4 separate regions of the Homo sapiens genome follow, and all the other regions are reported to be linked to region 2. The links are microRNA targets in miRTarBase. Many come from high-throughput screens and were not tested one by one. Region 2 holds a microRNA gene; each other region holds the end of a gene's coding sequence.
What was found. The annotated mature microRNA hsa-miR-328-5p reads GGGGGGGCAGGAGGGGCUCAGGG and lies in region 2 at 1,306-1,328, shown strand. An mRNA with a match to its seed (bases 2 to 7 or 8) in the 3' UTR can be bound and repressed. Matches are read on the target gene's strand: a 7mer-m8 pairs with bases 2 to 8, a 7mer-A1 pairs with bases 2 to 7 and ends in A, and an 8mer does both.

Region 1 (5,072 bases), not on the chromosome of region 2:
GTGTGACTTGTTCTAATCCTCCAAGAATGGAGTAGTAAAGAAACAGCAGAAATGACTTCCCTGCATTATTTCATGAAAATGATCAAAACCTTTATCTAAGTCAGAACATCAACAAGACTCTTGGTCTCAGGTCATCAGTTTCCTGGCACTCCTCCTCTCTCTAGCTGTAGTAGCAGCTACTGCTTGAAGACAACCTATATATCCCAGGCATACCCTCTACACGTATAAAAAGATGTGCAGGTGTTACAGACCACCTACACCTAATTCACTTCCTTTCTAATAAGATGGATGGAATAACTCGGAAAAGGGAAAGGAGGGATTTTGAGCCGCAGTTGTCTAAAGAATTATTGATTCACAGGGATCTCCAAGATCATGCATTTGAAGAGTTTTATTTCTCCACCCAAAGCCCTGCAGTGAAGAAAATCCAAGAATTAAGATGTAACATGTTGGCTGGGTGAGGTGGCTTGTGGCTTATGCCTGTAATCCCAGCACTTTGGGAAGTGTGGGGGGAGTGGGAGTGCAGATCACCTGGCCAACATGGTGAAACTCCATCTCTGCTCAAAATACAAAAATTAGCCGAGCGTGATGGCAGGTGCCTGTAATCCCAGCTACTCAGGAGGCTGAGGTGGGAGAATCGCTCGAACCCGGGAGGTGAAGATTGCAGTGAAGTCGAGATCGCACCATTGCATTCCCGCCTGGGAGACTCCATCTCAAAAAAAAAAAAAAAAAAATTAACATGTTGGCCCAGTGCAGTAGCTCACTCCTGTAATCCCAACCCTTTGGGAGGCCTGAGGTGGGAGGGTCACCTGAGGCTAGGAGTTCATGACGGGCCCAAGGCAACATAGCCATACCCTATTTCCAAAAATAAAAAAAAATAAAAAATTAGCCAGGTGTGGTGGTGTGCACCAGTAATCCCAGCTTCTCAGAGGAGGCCAAAGCAGGAGGATCACTTGAGCCCAGGAGTTGGTGGCCAAAGTGTGCTACAATCACACCACTGCATTCCAGCCTGGGTGAGAGTGAGACCCTCATGGGGTGGAAAAAAAAGATCTAACATGTTAACTTTAGGAACTATAAAATGCCTTCAGGTGTATGTGATCTGAAATTACAAGTGGTGACTTCTCAGAAAGCATATGAACACGGTGAATGTTGTAATGTTCTGAAGATAAGCTGATACTTAGTAGTGATATGTTCTAAAGACAAGAACATGAGGGCCCCAAAGCCTGTGTCATCAACTCTGCTTTGAGGTCACTAATTTTTAAATACAGAGCATAAAGTAGAACTCCAAACACTTGGGCAAGAAGAAAATCCATTGCAAATAGCCAACACATTTCTATTAAACCTCACATTTTCAATTTTGTATTTGGTTGAGAGTACTTTTTAAAAAAAGGCTTAAATCAATATTATCTAACACACACAAAAAATCTCATTAATTCTCCTCACTCTGGGCCAGATGCTGTGGCTCACACCTATAATCTCAGCACTTTGGGAGGCTGAGGCGAAATGATCGCTTGAGCCCAGGAGTCTGAGACCAGCCTGGGCAACATGGCAAAACCCCGTCTCTACAGAAAAAATAGAACAAATTAGCTGGGCATGGTGGCACGTGCCTGTCGTCCCAGCTACTCAGGAGACTGAGGAGGGAGGACCATTTGAACCCGGGAGGCAGAGGTCACAGTAAGCCAAGATCCCACCACTGCACTCCAGTCTGGGTGACAGTGATACCCTGTCTCAAAAAGATAAAAATAAAATTCCTACTCAGTAATTTTGGAGAAGACAAGGTTAAAATGTATCTTTGTACTTGTGAAAATGGCTTACAAAATTTTGAATCCAACAGACCCAAACTTGTCAGTGGCAGTCTAGTGTGGTAGAGAGAACAAACTGGACTTGCCACTTCCTTTAAGGTACAGCCAACAAATGTGTACCAAGTACTTCCAAGGACTCCTAAAGTGACTGGAGCCACTCACAACTATTGGTACAACTGCAGTAATTACAGCTGATTTACAGCTGTCCACTCAGGCAGGTATCACTCCTTCCTTTTTTGTTCTTAGTGTTCCCTAAATCTAATAAACCTCTATTCTAAATTTCTTCATAATTTAAACCTATGTTTAGTTGTGTGGCATATTTTTTCTCTCTTAATAGTACAAATCAGTGACGTTTACTCTATCTTTATTCTTGATTATATTGAATAAAGTTCAAGACAGAACATTCCAATATTAATAAAAATAGCATCAAATGTCAGATTTAGATTTTTTTTTTGAGACGGAGTCTCGCTCAGCCACCCAGGCTGCAGTGTAGTGGCACCATCTTGGCTCACTGCAACCTCTACCCGCCAAGTTCAAGCGATTATCCTGCCTCAGCCTCCCGAGTAGCTGGGACTACAGGCGCGTGCTACCACCATGCCCAGCTAATTTTTGTATTTTTTTCAGTAGAGACGGGGTTTCACCATGTTGGCCAGGATGGTCTCAAACTCCTGACCTCAGGTGATCCACCCGCTTCGGCCTCCCAAAGTGCTTGGATTACAGGCGTGAGCCACCACGCCTGGCCCCAGATTTAGATTTTAAATAAAACGTGAGGTACTGGGTCAAAGGGGGCTCTGCAGGTCGATGATCTCCTCAAACCTGCAAAGACATCCCATCTATGCAACTGGATTGGGGGGTGTCATTCCAAACACCCTCAGATCCTGCCCAGATATTCATCTGTGAACAAGGTATTTCAACACTAATTTTGAAACAATTCTACATCTAGCAGGTCAGTTTATCATTTTCCAGAATCTGAACTACTGTCAGGATAGACTCAAGTGAGATTAACACAGGGTTAATCTTCAATCTTAACACAATTATCAATTAGTTCTCCCAGTGGAACGATTAAGGCTTTTGTCAACATGTAGCATTTCTGCTGTAACCTATAAGTCTCATATTACCAGTTCCCCAGGATAGATAGATATTATGTCAGGTCCCAAGATAGGAGTTATGTTTCCATGGAATTAAGCCATATTCTCAGGACTGATTCTAGAACAGCTGGTTTCATGAGGCATATGGCGTAGATTAAAAAAAAACAAAACAAAGTGACTTACATTGACTTTAAGAAAAAATTAATTAAGATGTATTTAACCTTTAAGTATAGAATGATTGTATAAATTAGATTTCAACTGAAAGGACAATTAGCGATTCAGAGAAAGCTCCTAGAAATAGACTGAAAACAAAGCCATACATAGAGTAAGAAATAGAACCTATGGAACTTCCATTTTTCTAACTATAGTTTTTTGTTTTTGTTTTTTCCCAGTTGTTAAAAAAAAAACAACTCACAGTTTCAATATTTTCTGAACCAAAAATCAGAACACATGGTTTGTGTCAAAGGGTTTTTCTGTGCTACGTCTGGGAGTGCTGACCTAAGTGACATTTTTTTTTAATGCCAAATACAGTAATCTCCAAGCTTTTAATGGCTTATGCCAAGATGACAGAATATGTGAAATCTGATTGTCCCAGAGTTACACTCTGCACTCCAAAGCTACAACAGTGCCACAGCTGAGAGGTTTCCCTATACTTCCTACTACTGTGACAATTTAGCAATCCTTCAAATGGAAAATTCCTAATTACACGAGACAATGGTCCTACAGTAGGCCCGTGCGGAATAAGTTCCCTCGTTGGAAAAATGCTAGCATGAATAGTTTGATAAATGCAATCCATCAGCAAAGGAGAGCAAGCAGGCAGAGACTGTGCCAAGCAGAAACTCATTCGCATCAAGTTTTCCAATAAGTTTCCTTCCCCCAGTCCCTTTTCTTCAATCCTGCTTTTAAGCCAGGCCCCAGGGTAAGTCTGGTAGAACACTGAGCAGGAAAGCTTGGAAGGGTTCTACACCACTTCAAAAATACCTTTGCTTAAAAACACTTATATAGCCAGTGATTAGCAATTAAAATGTGAAAATAATCAACTACTCAGTAGTTAAATTCTGCTAATTATCAAAAGTCATAGTCTACTGGGATCAGCAGCATTACAAAAGGAAGTCATATCGCATTTCTTAAGCTTTTTCTGAATGGTTTAACAGGTCTCTTTCAGTGTTAATTGCACTTAAAACATCTGCTTTTTTTCATTTAATCTCTGAAATCTGTTCATTTTTTCCCTCCATTTATAAAAAGGGGTCAATTTATCATTTGCTCTATAGCTATTTGAATTCGAAAAAGATTCCACAAAATTTGAGTTGCACACAGGCGCTTTCTGAAGCAGATTAAACTTGTCCTTGTGACACTTCAGAGCTTGGACTGCAGTGACTTCAGGTGCTTGTAAGATTCGTGGACCTGTGGGGAAAGGAGAGAGAAGAACTACTAATAAAGAGTTTGCCATGTTAAATAGTATACTGTTTTTTGTTTTTGTTTTTGTTTTTTTTTTGAGACTGAGTCCTGCTCTGTTGCTCAGGCTGGAGTGCAGTGGCACAATCTTGGCTCACTACAGCCTCTGCCTCCCAGACTCCAGCGATCTTCCCACCTTAGCCTCCCGAGTTGCTAGAACTACAGGTGTGTGCCATGACACCTGGCTGCTATTTGTATTTTTTTGTAGAGATGGGGGTTTACCATGTTGGCCAGGCTGGTCTAGAACTCCTCAATTCAAGTGATCCACCCACCTCAGCCTCCCAAAGTGCTAGGATTACAGGCGTGAGCCACTGTGCCCAGCCTGTGGTTGTTTCTGAAGAGTCCTTATCTTTTAGAGCTATGCATTGAATTATTTATGGATAAAATTATCTGATGTCTTAGTTTTTTTTTTTTTTTTGAAACGGAGCCTCGCTCTTGTTGCCCAGGCTGGAGTGCAATGGCATGGTCTCGGCTCACCGCAACCTCCGCCTCCCAGGCTCAAGCAATTCTCCTGTCTCAGCCTCCCAAGTAGCTGGGATTACAGGCATGCGCCACCACGCCTGGCTAATTTTGTATTTTTAGTAGAAACAAGGTTTCTCCATGTTGGTCAGGCTGGTCTCAAACTCCCGACCTCAGGTGATCCACCTGCCTCGGCCTCCCAGGTGTGCATCACTGAGCCTGGCCCTGATGTCTTAGATTTATTTCAAAATAGTCCCCAGGAGGAGGGGGA
Region 2 (5,062 bases):
GGCACTGAGCCCATCTGTCCACAGGTAGAACTGGGGGTGGCACAGAGCCGTGAGGGTCTGCCCATCTGCCTCCCCTGCCCACCTGCCGACCTCAGCCTGGCGGACACTCACCTCCCGCTTGGAGGGGGCAATGAAGTTGAGGTACGCTTCCTCCTCCCCACGGTCATAGCTGATTGAGAAGGCCAACTCATAGAGGTCCTGGGGAAGCAAGGGAGCGGGGACACTGAGCAGGGGACAGGGTAGGCGGGGGCGGGTGGGAAGGAGCCCCTGGCCCGCTGTACTCACCTTGTTCTGCTTCCCGGAGCCCTTCTCCCGGACATGGGGGCAGTCCTTGCCTGTCAGGAGTGCCCTCATGTCGGCCACAGGGACTGCAGGAAGAAGGCTGGGCTGAGCACTGCAGCCCTGGCAGCCCCGGGGCCCAGGGCGGTCTGGGGAGAGCAGGTATCTGGCCCCCGCCCCTGCCCGCCTTACGTTGCTCGGGCAGACTCTCCAGGGTAGGCGGGCTGGCGCCCTCCTCCATGTCTCCGTACTGCAGCAGCTTGTGGTTGGGGGACAGGCAGCAGAACCACAGCTTATCTGCGTGGAGAAAGGGAAGAGGGCCAGAGTGCTGAGAGGTCCTGACACCAAGCCAGCCGCCCTCTGCCTGCCCTCTGCCTGCCCTCTGCCCCCTGCCCATGCCCATTCAGAGACCCTGGCGCCGCCGGCTGCTGATCTTGCGGAAGAGCGTCCCCTCACAGAGGCGGAGCAAGCGCTGCTGGCGGATCAGGCCCATGAGCTCTGGCTTCAGCTTCTCCCGCAGCTCCCTGATAGAGGGGTGTCACTGAGCACATCTGACCTGGGGAGTAGCCCAGGGGGCACCAAGGAAGGTAGGGCTAGGACTGAGGATCCATCCCCCCAGACTCACAGTATAGGGGGAGCCAGTGTGCCCTCCTGGTGCAGCCGTTCAGTCTGCCGCAGCCGCAGCACCTCCCCATAAGTGAGCGCATTCACCTTGGTTCGGAAGAGCTCCAGGGAAGTGGGCTTCAGGGCCAGAGTGCGGGCCAGCTGCTCCCGCACCACCTGCATGACCTGGGGCCGCCCAAGCTCAGCTCAGGGCCTAAGCTCTGTACCCAGATCAGCCCCCTGCCCTGGCCCAGGCCTCCCAGCTCCCACCCCACCCACCTTGTCGAAGTCCTCCTGTGTAGCCCGCATCTCCTTCCAGGTCTTATTCAACAGCTGGATGCCCACACAGAAGAGCTCGTGGAAGCTCTGGTCTTGGCCGAAGAACATGGGTGAGAAGTCCTGGGCTGTCTCAGAGCCTGGAGTGGGGGGGCAGGAGGGGCTCAGGGAGAAAGTGCATACAGCCCCTGGCCCTCTCTGCCCTTCCGTCCCCTGCTCTTGGCCATGCTGTGCCCAGTCCAGGCCACTCACAGGGCTCCCCAACACGGAGCAGCTCACACAGCAGCACCGTCAGCTGGATGCTGCCCCGGGCAAAGGGGCACTCGTGCTTGTCCTCGCGGCTGCTGTTCTCCAACACAAACTGGGGGCGCAGAGAATGGGGCAAGGAGTCACAGCTAAGCCCATGGGGACCCTGCCTGGGGGATGCTGCCACCCCCCCACCCTACCCTGTCACCGACCCGGCTGTACGCGCTGGGCGCGTTTCTGGAGAAGTACAACATGTTGTCCAGGGCCAGCAGACCGGGGGGCACGCGCTCCAGGTCCTGTGCTGGGTTGCTGTTCTGGGGGAAGTGGGCACAGGCAGTTCAAGAAGGGCCACGGCCGCCTGGAACAACAGCCCTGGGCTGAGGCAGGGGTGGGGAGTTGGGTAGGGGTGATACTCACAGAAAAGCCCAGTTTGCGGAACTCTCGGGCACAGAGGGAACGGCGACGGTCAGCACTTAGCCCGGCACCCGAGGACTCCCCCTCCACCTCGAAGGCAGCCTGGCGTAGGACCTGCAGCTGCTCCCGCTGCTCCTGGGGTCAGTGTTGGGTGGCGGGGGAGGGGATCAAGATTATAGATTCAAGGCCAAGCTCTAAGCCACCCCCTGCCTTGTCCTCACCAAAGACACACACCTGGCTGTAGGGGTCCAGGGGCGTCCGCATGCGCGGCTCCAGCAGCCCCAGCATGAGAGCCTGCAGTACGTACAGGTGATGAGCCATCTCGTCGCCCATTGGTGCTGCACTGTGGATGATGTTCTGCAGGACAGCCAGTCCCTGGTGTAAGCGAGGGCTCACGGGGAGGGAGGGGCAGAGAGGTCCCCCTGGCCCACCACTTCCTACCTTATAGATGAACTGGCGAAGGTTCCTCTGCCAAAGATAGTCAAGCATGTGCTGAGGGGGTAGAAAGAAAGGGGGCTTAGGCTGGGCGCGGTGGCTCACGCCTGTAATCCCAGCACTTTGGGAGGCCAAGGCGGGCGGATCACGAGGTCAGGAGATGGAGGCCAACCTGGCTAACACAGTGAAACCCCGTCTCTACTTAAAAAAAAAAAAAAAAAAAAAAAAATCAGCTGGGCGTGGTGGCGGGAGCCTGTAGTCCCAGCTACTCGGGAGGCTGAGGCAGGAGAATGGTGTGAACCCGGGAGGCAGAGCTTGCAGTGAGCCAAGATCGCACCACTGCACTCCAGCCTGGGCGACAGAGCAAGACTCCATCTCAAAAAAAAAAAAAAGGGGGGCTTAGAGGATTTTGCTTCAGGGTGGGGCAGCGCCCACCGGGTGCTGCCCCCATCTAGCCACCGATCGACACTCACCTTGCGTTCCACAGGGCTGGCCCCCTGCAGCAAGGCTGTCAGCAGGGCCATGGCCTTGGTTTGCAGCTGCTGGTTCATCCTATGGCAAGAAGAGGGCTCAGTGGAACATTCAGGCTCCAGCCCTGCTCCCTGCATCTGGACCCCAGCCCCAGAGGCTTACACCTGTAGGTGCACCAGCAGCCTATCCAGGGGCACCTCGCTCTTGACCAGCTGGCCCAGGGCTGGGCTGCTCAAGGTCACACTCTCCAGCAGCCCAAGGGCCAGGGGAGGCACGGAGGCATCCATGAGGTTCATGTTCACGTAGCACACCACCTGTAAGGGGCGGGGGTGTCACCACCTCACCCCCATGGAAGACCGGGTCTACCACTGCCCCACTGCTCCACTGCCCCCACCCGCTGCCCTAGGAAAGCCCACCCACCTTCCTCACAAAGGGGATGCTCAGAGTCTCCCAGGACACCACGCCGTGCTCCATGAGCTCTGAGAAGGCCCTCAGGCTGAGGGCCAGCACCTCTCCTAGGCTGGAGGGGGGACATCTGGGGCTGAGCAGGACCACCCCAGGACCAGAAAGACCCACCATCTCCCCCAGCCCACACATCCCTGTGCTCACTCGTCCCCATCTTCAATGATGGTGCCTAGTATCTGGAGCCCATTACGGCTGATGACCTCCCTGGCAAAGATCATGTCCGAGGCCAGCGGAACAAGGCGCCTCAGGGCTTCCCGGCGCCCTTCAGGACTGTTACTCTGCAGCCCACCCAAGAGCTGCTCAGCCTCAAGGTCCTGGCAGGAACGGAGCAGGAGCAGAGGTGAAGAGGCTGGGCATGGTAAGGGTGGGACCTGGAAGTGTGCGGCCCCGGGCGTCAACTAGGTGGCGCAAGGCAGGGCTGGGGCGGGGGCCTCCGGGGCGGGGGGCCTCTGGACCTGGAGCAAAGGGGCAGGGATGGGGAAGGCGGGACGGGAGGGGCATTACTGGGGCCGTGCTGAGGCACAGGATGCTGCCATTCTTGATCTCCGCGCGGTTCTGGAGAAGACAGCAGAAAAGGCAGCGAGGTCAGGGAGGGCTCCGAGGACTGATCAACTGGGGTGTCGGTGAGGGCGGCTGGGGGTGAATAACAGATCGCGCTCCGGTAGTGGGATGAAGAGCCAGAGTTATCGGGGCCAGGTGGGTTAGAGGGGTCGGAAGGCCGAGCTTGGGGCTGGGGAGAGGGGACTCACATTCTCGGTGATGTATCTCCGGTGCCCATCCGCAAACTGCAGGGCGTAACGCTCAGAGTGCGTCAGGCTCCACCTGAGGGGCACGAGGCTCAGCGAGGCCGGCAGGGGGCGCCGCCCCTCCTGCCCTCCCGCCCTCCGCAGGCCCTGGCCCGGCAGCACTCACGCGTCGCACACCTCCTTCAGCACAGCGGCCAGGGGCTTCGCCTGCAAGTGGAGTGGTCATTCTCGCGGCCTGGGCAGGGAGGGATGGGGAGGAGCCTGGGGGGAGGGGTGGGGCGGGCTGCCCCGAGGGCCAGGGGGCTACCGGGAGGTGGGGCAGTGGGGCAGATGGAGGCGGGACCAGCCGGGTGACCTGGTCCAGCTGGATGAGCTGCGGGATGGCGTCACGCATCTTGATGGCAATCTTCACCACGTTCCGCGGAGGCGCCATGGTCCAGCTGGGACGTGGGCGCCTGCACTTTCCGGAGACCGTGCACCTGCGGCCAAGGGTGCACCTGGCCTGGGGCCCCTGGGGACGAGGAGGTCCTCCCTTTCCGAGACCTGACCTCGGTGTCCCGCACTCGCGGCCCAGACTGCTGCTCCTGGCCATGCAACGCGGCCTTCCCAAGGGAGCCGAGGTTAGTTCCGGGTTGGAGTCTGGGGGTAGGAAGGTAGGACGGCTCCGCCTGCCCCGCCCCGCCGAGGCGGCCCCGCCCCACACCAAGGTGCGGCAGGTGGGGGCGGGGAGGGCAGGCTGCCGGAGGCCGCCCCACCCCTAGTTCCAGCAAGGTGACCCACCCAATCACACTGCCAGTCCAGCACAGTCCCAAGGAGGGTCCCCAAAGAACCACATCAGAGCTAGCCTTAGGCATGGTTTTTATTCACTTGAACACTGTACAAATATTACAATTTCCTTTTGCTGCAAAAAGTATAAAAATAATCTTTATATAGGAATCCATTCGTTACTGTAAATCTTTCTAAATCTCTGCAAATGGCTCTAAATGAGGGTAAATGAAAAAGCCGAAATGAAGAGAGGGTTATGGGGCAGCAGGAGGTGGGGCCAATCATCAGGGCTGGACCACCCAGACTCCTCCCCAGAGACCTCTGTTCCTTCTTGGTAGCCGCCCCCACCACCTGCAGGTTCT
Region 3 (5,072 bases), not on the chromosome of region 2:
TGCCTGTCCCCAAAGCACAGGGCTCAGCTCCAGAGGGAGACGGGCTGGGCTGTCAGTGGTCCCAGGTGCATCCCACTTTCCAGCAGCACTTGGTGCCAGCAGAGGCTGCAGGTGTGGCAGGAGGGGGCCCAGCCGTGAGGGCACCAGGTTCAGGCCCGGCATCTCAGGGTGGAGAGCCAGGGCTGTCCTGAACCTCCAGAGGGGGTGAGCTGGGAACTTGTGTGAAGGGGCTTTTTCCAAAAGGAAAACGGGAGCTACTGGCTCACGGCTGATGCCCCAGACAGCCTCGAGGATCTGCAGGTCCCCAGACACCAAGCCTGGGTGCTCTCCAGCAGACGGCGTGGTACCCACAGCTAATGCCTGCCCCTTCCTAGAACGAAGAGTCACTGAAGAAGTGCGTGGAGGATTACCTGGCAAGGATCACCCAGGAGGGCCAGAGGTACCAAGCCCTGAAGGCCCACGCGGAGGAGAAGCTGCAGCTGTGAGTGCTGGGCGAGGCCCCACCCTGGAGGGAGAATCTGAGCACCTGGGCCCCAGCTCAGCCTCTGCCCCGCCCCTACCCCTCCAGGGCAAACGAGGAGATCGCCCAGGTCCGGAGCAAGGCCCAGGCGGAAGCGTTGGCCCTCCAGGCCAGCCTGAGGAAGGAGCAGATGCGCATCCAGTCGCTGGAGAAGACAGTGGAGCAGAAGGTGGGTGCGGGAAGCCCAGCTCAAGGGGCCGTCTGGCAGCACCTTCTAGAAGGCCCTTGGGCCTGCTGCTCCCTCCAAGCAGGGAGAAGCCCCGCAACTCATCTTCCTCCTCCAGACTAAAGAGAACGAGGAGCTGACCAGGATCTGCGACGACCTCATCTCCAAGATGGAGAAGATCTGACCTCCACGGAGCCGCTGTCCCCGCCCCCCTGCTCCCGTCTGTCTGTCCTGTCTGATTCTCTTAGGTGTCATGTTCTTTTTTCTGTCTTGTCTTCAACTTTTTTAAAAACTAGATTGCTTTGAAAACATGACTCAATAAAAGTTTCCTTTCAATTTAAACACTGAAGCCGCTCTGGTCTTGATGAAGCAAAGGTTTCCCAGCTCTAGCCTGAGGCTGAGCCGACCCGCAGGTGCCCTCCCTTCCCCTCAGAGCTGGCCACTTGGTCCCTGCCTACCCCAGGCTCAGGCCACCCTGCCGAGGGGCAGGGACAGCCAGTGGATAGAGGAGGCTCAGGCCTGCCCAGTCTGCCCCGGCCACCTCGGGTTGGCTACATGGTCCTGGCCTCAGGTACACACATCAAAGTCCAAATGGACTCGTTTTTTTGTTTGTTTTTTTGTTTTTTGTTTTTTTTGAGACAGTCTCTCACCCACGCTGGAGTGCAGTGGCGTGAACTCGGCTCACTGTAAGCTCCGCCTCCCAGGTTCACGCCATTCTCCTGCTTCAGCCTCCCGAGTAGCTGGAACTACAGGCGCCCGCCACCACGCCCGGCTAATTTTTTGTATTTTTAGTAGAGACGGGGAAGTTTTCATATAAAACAAAAACTGTGAACAGCCAGGCATGCATGCCGGTGGCTCTGATTCTGGTGCCGACCTGGCGAGCCTGCAGCCCCAGCTAATTGAGCGCTCACCTGGGTGTGGGTGTGGAGGGAGGCCCCCTGCAGGTGCAGCTGCTCAGCTCCTGTCGTCCTCGTCCTTGGGGGCGTGGAGACTTCAGAGCAAAACAGGCTTCCCTGAGGAAGTTCTGTCTCCACACGGCAGGGCTTCCTCCCCGACCCTAACCCCATCTCCAGCAGTCCCGTCCTGCGGATCTCAAACTCAGACAGGCACACTGGAACCCAAGGCAGTTCCAGGAGCCCTTCTGGTCAGGCAGAGGCTTGGCCCAGCTGGGGCATCCCGGGAACCTGGGTACCGAGCTGAGAGATGCTGGTCACTGGGTTCAGCCATGGCACCTAGGACCCCAGCACCAGCCAGAGGGCCAGGGCCTCCTGAGGGGCCAGGCAAGACCAAGGGTTGACGCTGTAACCTGTTTCCAGGGGTCGGTGCTGCTGCTGTGCCCAGATCACGCCGTCCAGAAAAGCCGTTTTCTCCCATCAGTGAAGAGTGGGGCTCCCCACATAGGGAGGGACCCAGGCCGAGATCTGGCCGCAGTCACCTGGCCCCAGTAGTGTCTGAGCCTGGGGGTTGCAGTCCCAGGACCTGCTTCCAAGGCTCTGCGAGTCTGCCCCTTGGCCTGGTGAGCAGCACTGCAGTACTGACCTCGGGTGGGCGCAACAACACCCCCAGCCGCCGCCAGGGGTCGCTTGCCGCCATGGGCCATGCAGGGACCGGACCAGGTGGGTGACACCCTGAAGGGGCGGGGCACGGGTGCCAAGAAGCCGCATGGACCGCCAGGGAGGCTGAGGGGCGGGCAGGGGCTTCAGCCTGGGTGGCCAGTGGGGTGTCCCCAAGGGCATGAGGGTGCATTTGTTCTTAGCACGTTTGGAGGAGGGGGCCTGGCACAGGGATGGACGGCCACAGCGGGCCATGGCCAGTCACGGCTGGGGCAGGGACTGGGCCAGCCTCAGGGGGGCCTGGGGGCCACTCCCTCCCCCTCCACAGCCCACCTGTGCTCCTGCGGCACCTCCTGACTGGCTTCCCAGGACCATCGCGCCCCTCCCTCCCGTGGGCAGCAACCCCCATCTCAGCCCCGAGCCTGGGTAACAATAGGGTGTAATCCCTGGCTGAGGGGCCTCTGAGAGCCTTCCGTGGCCCACTTCACAGACGAGAAACCGAGGCCCACAGACCAGTGGCCATTGGCCGGGGGAGACGGGCCAAGCACAGGGTGTGGGCCCCCTCTCCTGCTTGGGGTTGAGGATATGGGGGAGAAGAAGGGCCCTCGAGCCTCCAGAGCTCACCAGCTGCCCTATGGGCAGCACGGCCCGCCTCGGCCTCCCCGCTGCCCACAGGCATGTCCGGCCGCAGGACTCCCACCTCTCTTTGCCGGGTCAGCTCTGCTCTGACAAGGTCTCAGGACACAAGGCGGCTGCCAGGTCCTCCTCCTCACTCAGCCCTGCCGGTCTGGCCTTCTGGCTCCTCTGACAGCTGCCCAGGGCCCTGTCCCCTGCTGGGGCCTCTCTGAGCCAAGCCGGGAGCCTGCCCGGAGAAGGCCGTGCAGGGCGGCTGAACGTGTCAGGGCACCTGGCCGGGCCTGGGGCCGCGCCGAGGACACCGGCCACCAGGCAGCGTCCTGGGCCGGGAGCCTCTCTCCCAGGACAAAGGGGCCTTGTGTGGCTGAATGGGTGTTTATCCTGGAGCCTGAGTTAACTCAGGGCTGCGAGGCCGGGCGGGGGCCCTGGCACTGGCCTGCCTGGTAAACATGACCTGAGCTGGGCACGCAGCCGTGGCCTGGACTTCCGCAGCCCCGGACCCCCTGCACATCCACGCAGTCGCCTTGTGGGGGGCTCAAGGAAACAGGAGCTGTCCTGGGGGCTGCCTCCGTGGGAGTCCTCATACACAGTCATGGAGGCAGCGCTCGGCTCTGCCCTTCCCACAGCTCAGGGCAGGGCTCAGAAACACCCCCCCGACGTGCCCCATTGGAAGGAGGGGTGAGGGTTAGACGAGGTCGTGAGGGTGAGGCCCTGGTCTGCTGGGATTAGTGTCCTTGCGGGAAGGCAGCAGGCCGGGAGAGCACTTTGGAGGAACTGACCCGCCAGCACCCTGATGGCGGACTTGGCGCCTCCAGAACCCAGAGAAACACGTGTCTGTGGTGCAAGCCATCTGGTCCCAGGCAGGATGAGACCCCGCCGTCCGAGGGGCTGTCCAGCCTGGTGCCCACCCACTGCCCAGCTCCCCCTGCAGCCAATATCCAAATCCCGAGGGGAGTGCAGGGCTCAGCCCACATGGAGAAGCTAGGTCTGTGGGGCACCCCCACCCCTCTAAGGCCACCTAGGAGTGGAACCTGCAGCTGCCTCCCTGGGCTGGTCAAGACCCTTTCAACAGGGCCGGTGGGGCTGCCCCTCCAAGCTCACTCCCATGCCCCCATGCTCTCTCCAGGGGCCGCCAGCCACCAGGCTGGATGGAAGAGGGGGTGGGGGCGAGGGAGATAGGCCAGGACAAGCTGACCACAGCCCGAGCGTTCCCTGCCAGGCACCCCTCTGCAGCCCCCACCCTGCCCTACCCAGCCTGAGCCCCGGGAGAGAGTTCACCCAGCCTGCAGGCAGACCCAGATCACCCTCCCATGGACTCAGGAGCTGTCCCCAGCCCAGGCTGAACCCCAGACCCCTTTCGGTCCCCAAGGTCCATGCCAGTGAGGGTCGCTGCAAGCCCACGTGGTTGCCGGAGGTCCCTCCTCCAGCCCATCACTCCACTTTCTGGGAAGGACCCCCGGAGGCCTGGGGACTAAGCCCCGGCGCCGCGCCGGACTGCCCTGGTGGGCTGAGCGCACATCCCTTGTCTCTCTTAGGGAGCTCTGTGAGGGGCAGGACCGGGCCAGCAGCCGCTCAGGAAGCTGGAGCACGTGAGGGAAAAGCCCTGTCCCCACAGGGCTGAGGCTGGACGAGGTCCAAGGAGGGGCTTCTGCCCGAGCCCAGGCCTTCCTTGGGGTGTGCTCCAGTAGCAGGTGCGCGTGCCACCTGTGCCGTGGGTTGGAGGGGTGGAACGTGTACGTCCTGGCTGCCCCCGAGCTCTGGGGACCCCGAACTCCTGGGGCTTCTGCCTGAGCCTTTGGACCCCAACAGCCTGCAGGGGGCGCCATTGGGCCACCGGAGCCCCTTCTGCAGACCCGGCGCGACCGCACTCCTGCCAGGCTGTTCCTACCGCCTGGCCACAGGCCTCCAGGAGGGGCCCCCACCCTGGGGCGACGAGGAGCCACCTGGGCCCGCACCAGGCCTCCCCACAGGGCCTCCCCACCTGCCCCCTCCCCACTGCTCTCCCTCCCCACCGCTCTCCCTCCCCACCGCACCCCCTCCCCACCACGCCCCCTCCCCACCGTGCCCCCTCCCCACCCAACGTGCCCCCTCCCCATCACGCCCCCTCCCCACCTGTCCCCCCACCACGACCCCTCCCCACCTGTTCCCTCCCCCTGCCCCCTCCCCACCACGAACCCTCCCCACCTGTCCCCTCCTC
Region 4 (5,072 bases), not on the chromosome of region 2:
GACTTAGGGCTGGGAGAGGGCCGGAGGCCGGAGTCAGAACACCTCACACAGCCGGGAAGGGCCGAATAGACAGAAAGACTCCCACACCTCCGTCACAAAGCAGTGAAGACGGTTTCATAGCACACTATCACAACTCTCCTCTGGAGAGTGGATCTTTCAAGAACTGTCTCAGAGGTTCTTCTTTCTAAAAATAAAGTCAATTCTTATTTGAGACCCAGGCATCCTCCTGAGGGAGCAGAGCATGAGGCCCCCACCCCCATCACACACATACTTCCTAGGCTGTCTCAACAAGAGCACAGTGACCTGGTCACCTGGGCCTGGGTCCTGGCCCACACACAACCACCCTCACCTCCTTACAGCATGGCCACCAACTGCAGCCAAGGAGGCCACCTGCCCCCAGGCCTGCCTGCTGTGGGCTCCATTAAGGAAGGACTCCTCAGCTGGGCACGGTGGCTCACACCTGTGTCCCAACACTTTGGGAGGCTGAGGCGGGTGGATCACCTGAGGTCAGGAGTTCGAGACCATCCTGGCCAACATGGTGAAACCCTGTCTCTACTAAAAATACAAAAAATTAGCCAGGCGTTGTGGCAGGCACCTGTAATCCCAGCTACTCGGGAGGTTGAGGCAGGAGAATTGCTTGAACCTGGGAGGCGGAGGTTGCAGTGAGCCGAGATCGCGCTATTGCACTCCAGCCTGGGTGACAGAGCCAGACTCCGTCTCAAAAAAAAAAAAAAAAAGGGCTCCGCACCCAGGTCAGACAGTTCATGAAGGTGATAATATATAGAGAACACACACCTCAGACTCACAGCCTTTCTCCACTGCAAGCGTAAGAGACTGGTTTTATTTCAAGAATAACTAAGGGTATATTAACACATGTATCTCAAAGTAACATTGAATTATTGAAGACATACTGTTCCAATACTCAAACAGTTCACAGAGAGGGGACAGGAACCAATGTACTGGAAAAACACACTTGTATTATATGTAAAAATCGATGGCCAATATTTCTCTTATTAAGAGAAAAATACCCAACAAATTAAAAGGTGAAAAGCTGTGCTCAAAAAAAAAATAAAAAAACCCAAAACCTTGCATGCACAAGCTAAGCTCAGACCCTTAAAAACCAGATAGAAATTGACAAAGTCAAACAAAGGAGAAAAACTAGCTGAACTTCTCAAACTAAATTATATCAAATATATGTGCATTTTAGCAAAATAAACCACTAAACTATACTTTGTAGACATATTCATTACATTTATTTTAATAACTACTTCATTATAGGCTGACTGGCTTTCCTGTGTGGATAAAGTGTGATCTGAAAGCAACGCTGACTGAATGTAAATAAAGCAAACGTTCCCAGCCATTTTTGGCATGAACATGGACTACAGCGTTTAATGCAGACCCAAAGCCACACATTTTTGGGGAGTAGGTTTTACTTGCAGTACAGATTCTTTTCATTACAGATCACAAAAATACAATACAATGTGACAAGCCCAGTTTAAGAATTACATGCAGTAGCTCATATTAACACAAACAGCTCCCCACGAAGGCCGACAAGAGCTAAATCCGGTGTCAACAGGGTTCATTGCAGGAGTAGAATAATCCGGTACAAGGAACGAGAACAGATTGAAACCAGAAACAAAGCCATGCCTGACAGTCAATCAAGGTCAATCTGATCATTTCCATGACCAATTACCCATGTGAACAATTCAAAATGACGGTGGAAGAGCTGAGCACCCTGTACTCACACACGATGCCCACAGCTTGGCAAAAGGTACACAAACACTTGTTTGAAAAGAATGACTGAAACGTCTACTTTCAAAGAACAATGGACACTTTTAAAGGGAATGCTGACATTTAACTTTACAAAATGAAATTTAAAATGTAAGTAGTACTCTGGGGAAGAATATGCCTGAAGCGTAACCATGATTTCCCAGTGGTATAATTAAACAGAGCTCTAATTTAAAAACTCTTCCTGGGCTGGGCGCCGTGGCTCACACCCGTTAATCCCAGCACTTTGGGGGGCCGAGGCGGGCGGATCACGAGGTCAGGAGTTCGAGACCAGCCTGACCATCATGGTGAAATCTCAACTCTATTAAAAATACAAAAATTAGCCAGGCATGGTGCCACATGCCTGTACTCCCAGCTACTCAGGTGGCTGAGGCAGGAGAATCGCTTGAACCTGGGAGGTGGAGGTTGCAGTGAGCTGAGATGGCACCACTGCACTGCAGCCTGGGCAACAGAGACTCCATCTCAAAAATAAATAAAAAATAAAAACTCTTCCTCAAGATTTTAAGAGCATTCTAAAATTATGATACAGAAAAGCAATCCTACAACTACTGTGGCCAAAACGTGGATTCCAATGACCTGCCTTGAGCCCGCGGTTGCCAGGAGTTGGACCTGCAGTAGTATGGGAAGCTCACGGCCTAAATACCGACTGCCCTCTGACCCCACCGTCCAGCGATTCTAGAACATTTCTAGTAGGAAAGACATAGCAAGGGATTTTCATGATTGGGAAATACTGAGAGACAAGCTGAAGATTTGTTAAGGGCTATGCTTCTGTCATCTTTTAGGTATTTAAGGCTACTCCTTTAGCTAGCTACTTTGAGCTGTTTAAAGTGACTATCTCCCTACACAGAGTTACACAATGAGCATCTCTGAAAGAGAATATTACCCTGGATTTCCAAAGATGTACTCTAACAGGATGACCAGGCAAAAGGTGACCCGGGGGAGGAGTCTGTTATAACACTCGGACCCACATGTTCTCAAGGCACTTCAGAACTTTGGGAAATCATTTTGTACCGGATCCTCAGAAAGCATTTATGGAAATACACATCCTTTAGAAGAGAGATGCTTCACGCACGACTGACTTTAATGGCTCTTTCAGGCAACAGAGAAACCACCACATGCCCATGACATGAGCTCAGTTGTTCAGCAGGCACCCAGAGGAAGCCTTTAATTCCGAGCAGGTTTCACTGATTGGTCCTGGAGCAGGTGTAGTTATGACATTTACTAAGTGAGTGGTTAACAGCTGACTGCCTAGAAAACCTAGGAAGGCCTGGTCCCTCTGGGTTACTGACAGCGTCTACCCTCACGTTGTAAAACAGCACCGGGGAGGTGTGACAAGGCTGTCCATTTTACAGCCTTGGACAACAGAAGAGAACCATTATGTGCTACATTCAGACTTTCTGATTTAGTTTTAGTATAACCTGACATTGGTAACCCGTCTCCAGTATTCATCCTCCAACTACAGGTATGAGTGTTTCCTTTTTTTTTTTTTAAAGGCCCATTAACTTAATTTAAATGTTCCCATCCTTATGAATTTACTCACTAAGGAAAACTATAAGCTCAGATTTTACAAACAAAAGCAACTTACAAGGTATTATTGCTGGTCCTTTATCCCTTCTCTTTAATGCAATCTCAAAGGTTTTTTGGCTATTAGTTTTCATAATTTTCTTATGTTGCACACAAAAACAAGATTCCTCTCTAAAACGTAGAGGATGGGGAAAATGCAGATGCTGTTTTTCCAACTAAAAATGTTTACAAAAGAACAGACTGTCTGAACAAACAAAAAAACCCCACCCCGTTAAGCTGGGTAGGACCAATCAGGCCTTATAAGTGAAAAAAAAGCCTTCTATCGAGCATAATGAAACAGAACATGTACTGCTTGTGTTTGAACCTTACTCTTATTTAACCAAAAATTTCCCCTTTCTCATAATTTTCCTAGTATTATGTAAGGTTATGCCTAGTTCTAGATTCTGAAAGACCTGCATTTTAATGCTTGCACAACCCATTTAAAATCTACAAAAGCTGCCTCTATTTTGTTTTCTGATTAAAAACGCAAAAAAAAGGACAAACCAAACAAACCACACCACATCATACAGATAATGATCCGAATGGAAAAGTTAACGTGCTGTAATGATATTTGTCTTGCAACATCAAAAGCAGCAGATACTGAATAGAATTTGCTTCAATCATAAATACTGAGACTGAAATATGCACGTATAAATCAATGAACTGAAAGCTCTCTATACATAGAAGCACATATGAAGTGCAAAACAGTATCAAAAGTGAGATCTCTGGTATTTCAGTACTCCCATTCATCAGATTTCAGGTCGAGATAGCTGAGAATATTCTGCGCAAGCCTCACAGCTTGTTTCCTGGCAGCCTTACACTTCTCTTCTCCCTGCGGATCAACAGCATCCAGGGCTAGCAGCTGCTTGGTGAGCAGCTCTTCCAGCCGGATGTAGTTCTTATCGGTTCGATTTCCATCAAATGAAAGAACTTCTCCCTGGATCTCAGACAAGTTTCCAAGGACGTTCCAGACGGCTTTATGGGATGGGTGCTCCTCACAAGCAAACAGCTTTCTTTTCTCAAGGGCCTCCTTCAAGTCAATATATGTGATCAGAGTTTGCACCTCGATCACTGCTCTTCTCCTGGCTTCCCGGATGCAGGGGTTTTTTTCAAGACTTACCTCATCCAACTGTCCAATTAAACCCTGCAATTCTGTTTTGGAGCTCAGGTACAATTCAGAAGGGTTTTGTGCTTGGAGAAGTTCATTTTTTATTTCTCTCATTCTCTTGAGGACCTTTTCTATTTTTAAAATGGAATGATTCTGTCTCAGGTCAAATGCTTTAGTTGTGTCTGCTTCCTCTTCCAAATCCAGATATTTCAATAATTTGTTGATATCTTCTACTACCTCCCTCCGATAATTTCTGATTTCTGTCCGGCCGCACACATCTAGAGCATCCAGGTCAGCGATCAGCCCCGAGAGCACACAGGATAAGTGCCTGCAGGTCTCATTGTTGTTCACACCCATCAGAAGTGCAATCAGGACCCCTCGGGCCTTGTTCACCTCACACATCACGAAGTTGATTTTGGCAACGGAAGGATGTGCATCCTCGGAAAGCGGCAGGGAAGGCTGCTTTTTCATGCAGTCTTCGATTATCTCTTGCACCGCACAGATTTTGGTTAAAGTGTGATACCTTGCTTTCCGCAAGGAGATTTTTCCTCCAGTTTTAACATGTGTCAGCCTCAGAATGATATCTTGGATGCCTTCTTCAAACTCATCAGTT

Region 1: the mRNA of ACOX1 is a reported target of hsa-miR-328-5p. Seed matches in the 3' UTR shown: 7mer-A1 at 2,647-2,653 and 7mer-A1 at 504-510.
Region 3: miRTarBase lists TACC3 as a target of hsa-miR-328-5p. Seed matches in the 3' UTR shown: 7mer-m8 at 893-899.
Region 4: miRTarBase lists BAG5 as a target of hsa-miR-328-5p. Seed matches in the 3' UTR shown: 8mer at 2,016-2,023.

The regions. Positions count from the first base shown.
Region 1 is chr17:75,942,505-75,947,576 of GRCh38, forward strand. ACOX1 (acyl-CoA oxidase 1) reads right to left here. Exons shown (of 14, transcript NM_004035.7): 14 at 1-4,291. The coding sequence ends at 4,244. Among named protein-coding and RNA genes, the nearest start is that of FBF1, 4.0 kb to the left of the region's middle.
Region 2 is chr16:67,198,633-67,203,694 of GRCh38, reverse strand. MIR328 (microRNA 328) reads left to right here and starts at 1,300; the gene lies at 1,300-1,374. It overlaps E2F4 (E2F transcription factor 4), which reads right to left. Exons shown (of 10, transcript NM_001950.4): 10 at 4,777-5,062. It overlaps ELMO3 (engulfment and cell motility 3), which reads right to left and starts at 4,564. Exons shown (of 20, transcript NM_024712.5): 1 at 4,291-4,564; 2 at 4,102-4,142; 3 at 3,939-4,011; 4 at 3,694-3,744; 5 at 3,334-3,503; 6 at 3,145-3,244; 7 at 2,887-3,038; 8 at 2,727-2,805; 9 at 2,260-2,310; 10 at 2,053-2,175; 11 at 1,822-1,953; 12 at 1,617-1,718; 13 at 1,411-1,519; 14 at 1,162-1,298; 6 more. The coding sequence starts at 4,368.
Region 3 is chr4:1,744,144-1,749,215 of GRCh38, forward strand. TACC3 (transforming acidic coiled-coil containing protein 3) reads left to right here. Exons shown (of 16, transcript NM_006342.3): 14 at 375-481; 15 at 569-689; 16 at 805-1,028. The coding sequence ends at 870. Among named protein-coding and RNA genes, the nearest start is that of TACC3, 25 kb to the left of the region's middle. RefSeq lists a silencer at 4,679-4,878.
Region 4 is chr14:103,555,737-103,560,808 of GRCh38, forward strand. BAG5 (BAG cochaperone 5) reads right to left here. Exons shown (of 2, transcript NM_001015048.3): 2 at 815-5,072. The coding sequence ends at 4,085. Among named protein-coding and RNA genes, the nearest start is that of BAG5, 4.4 kb to the right of the region's middle.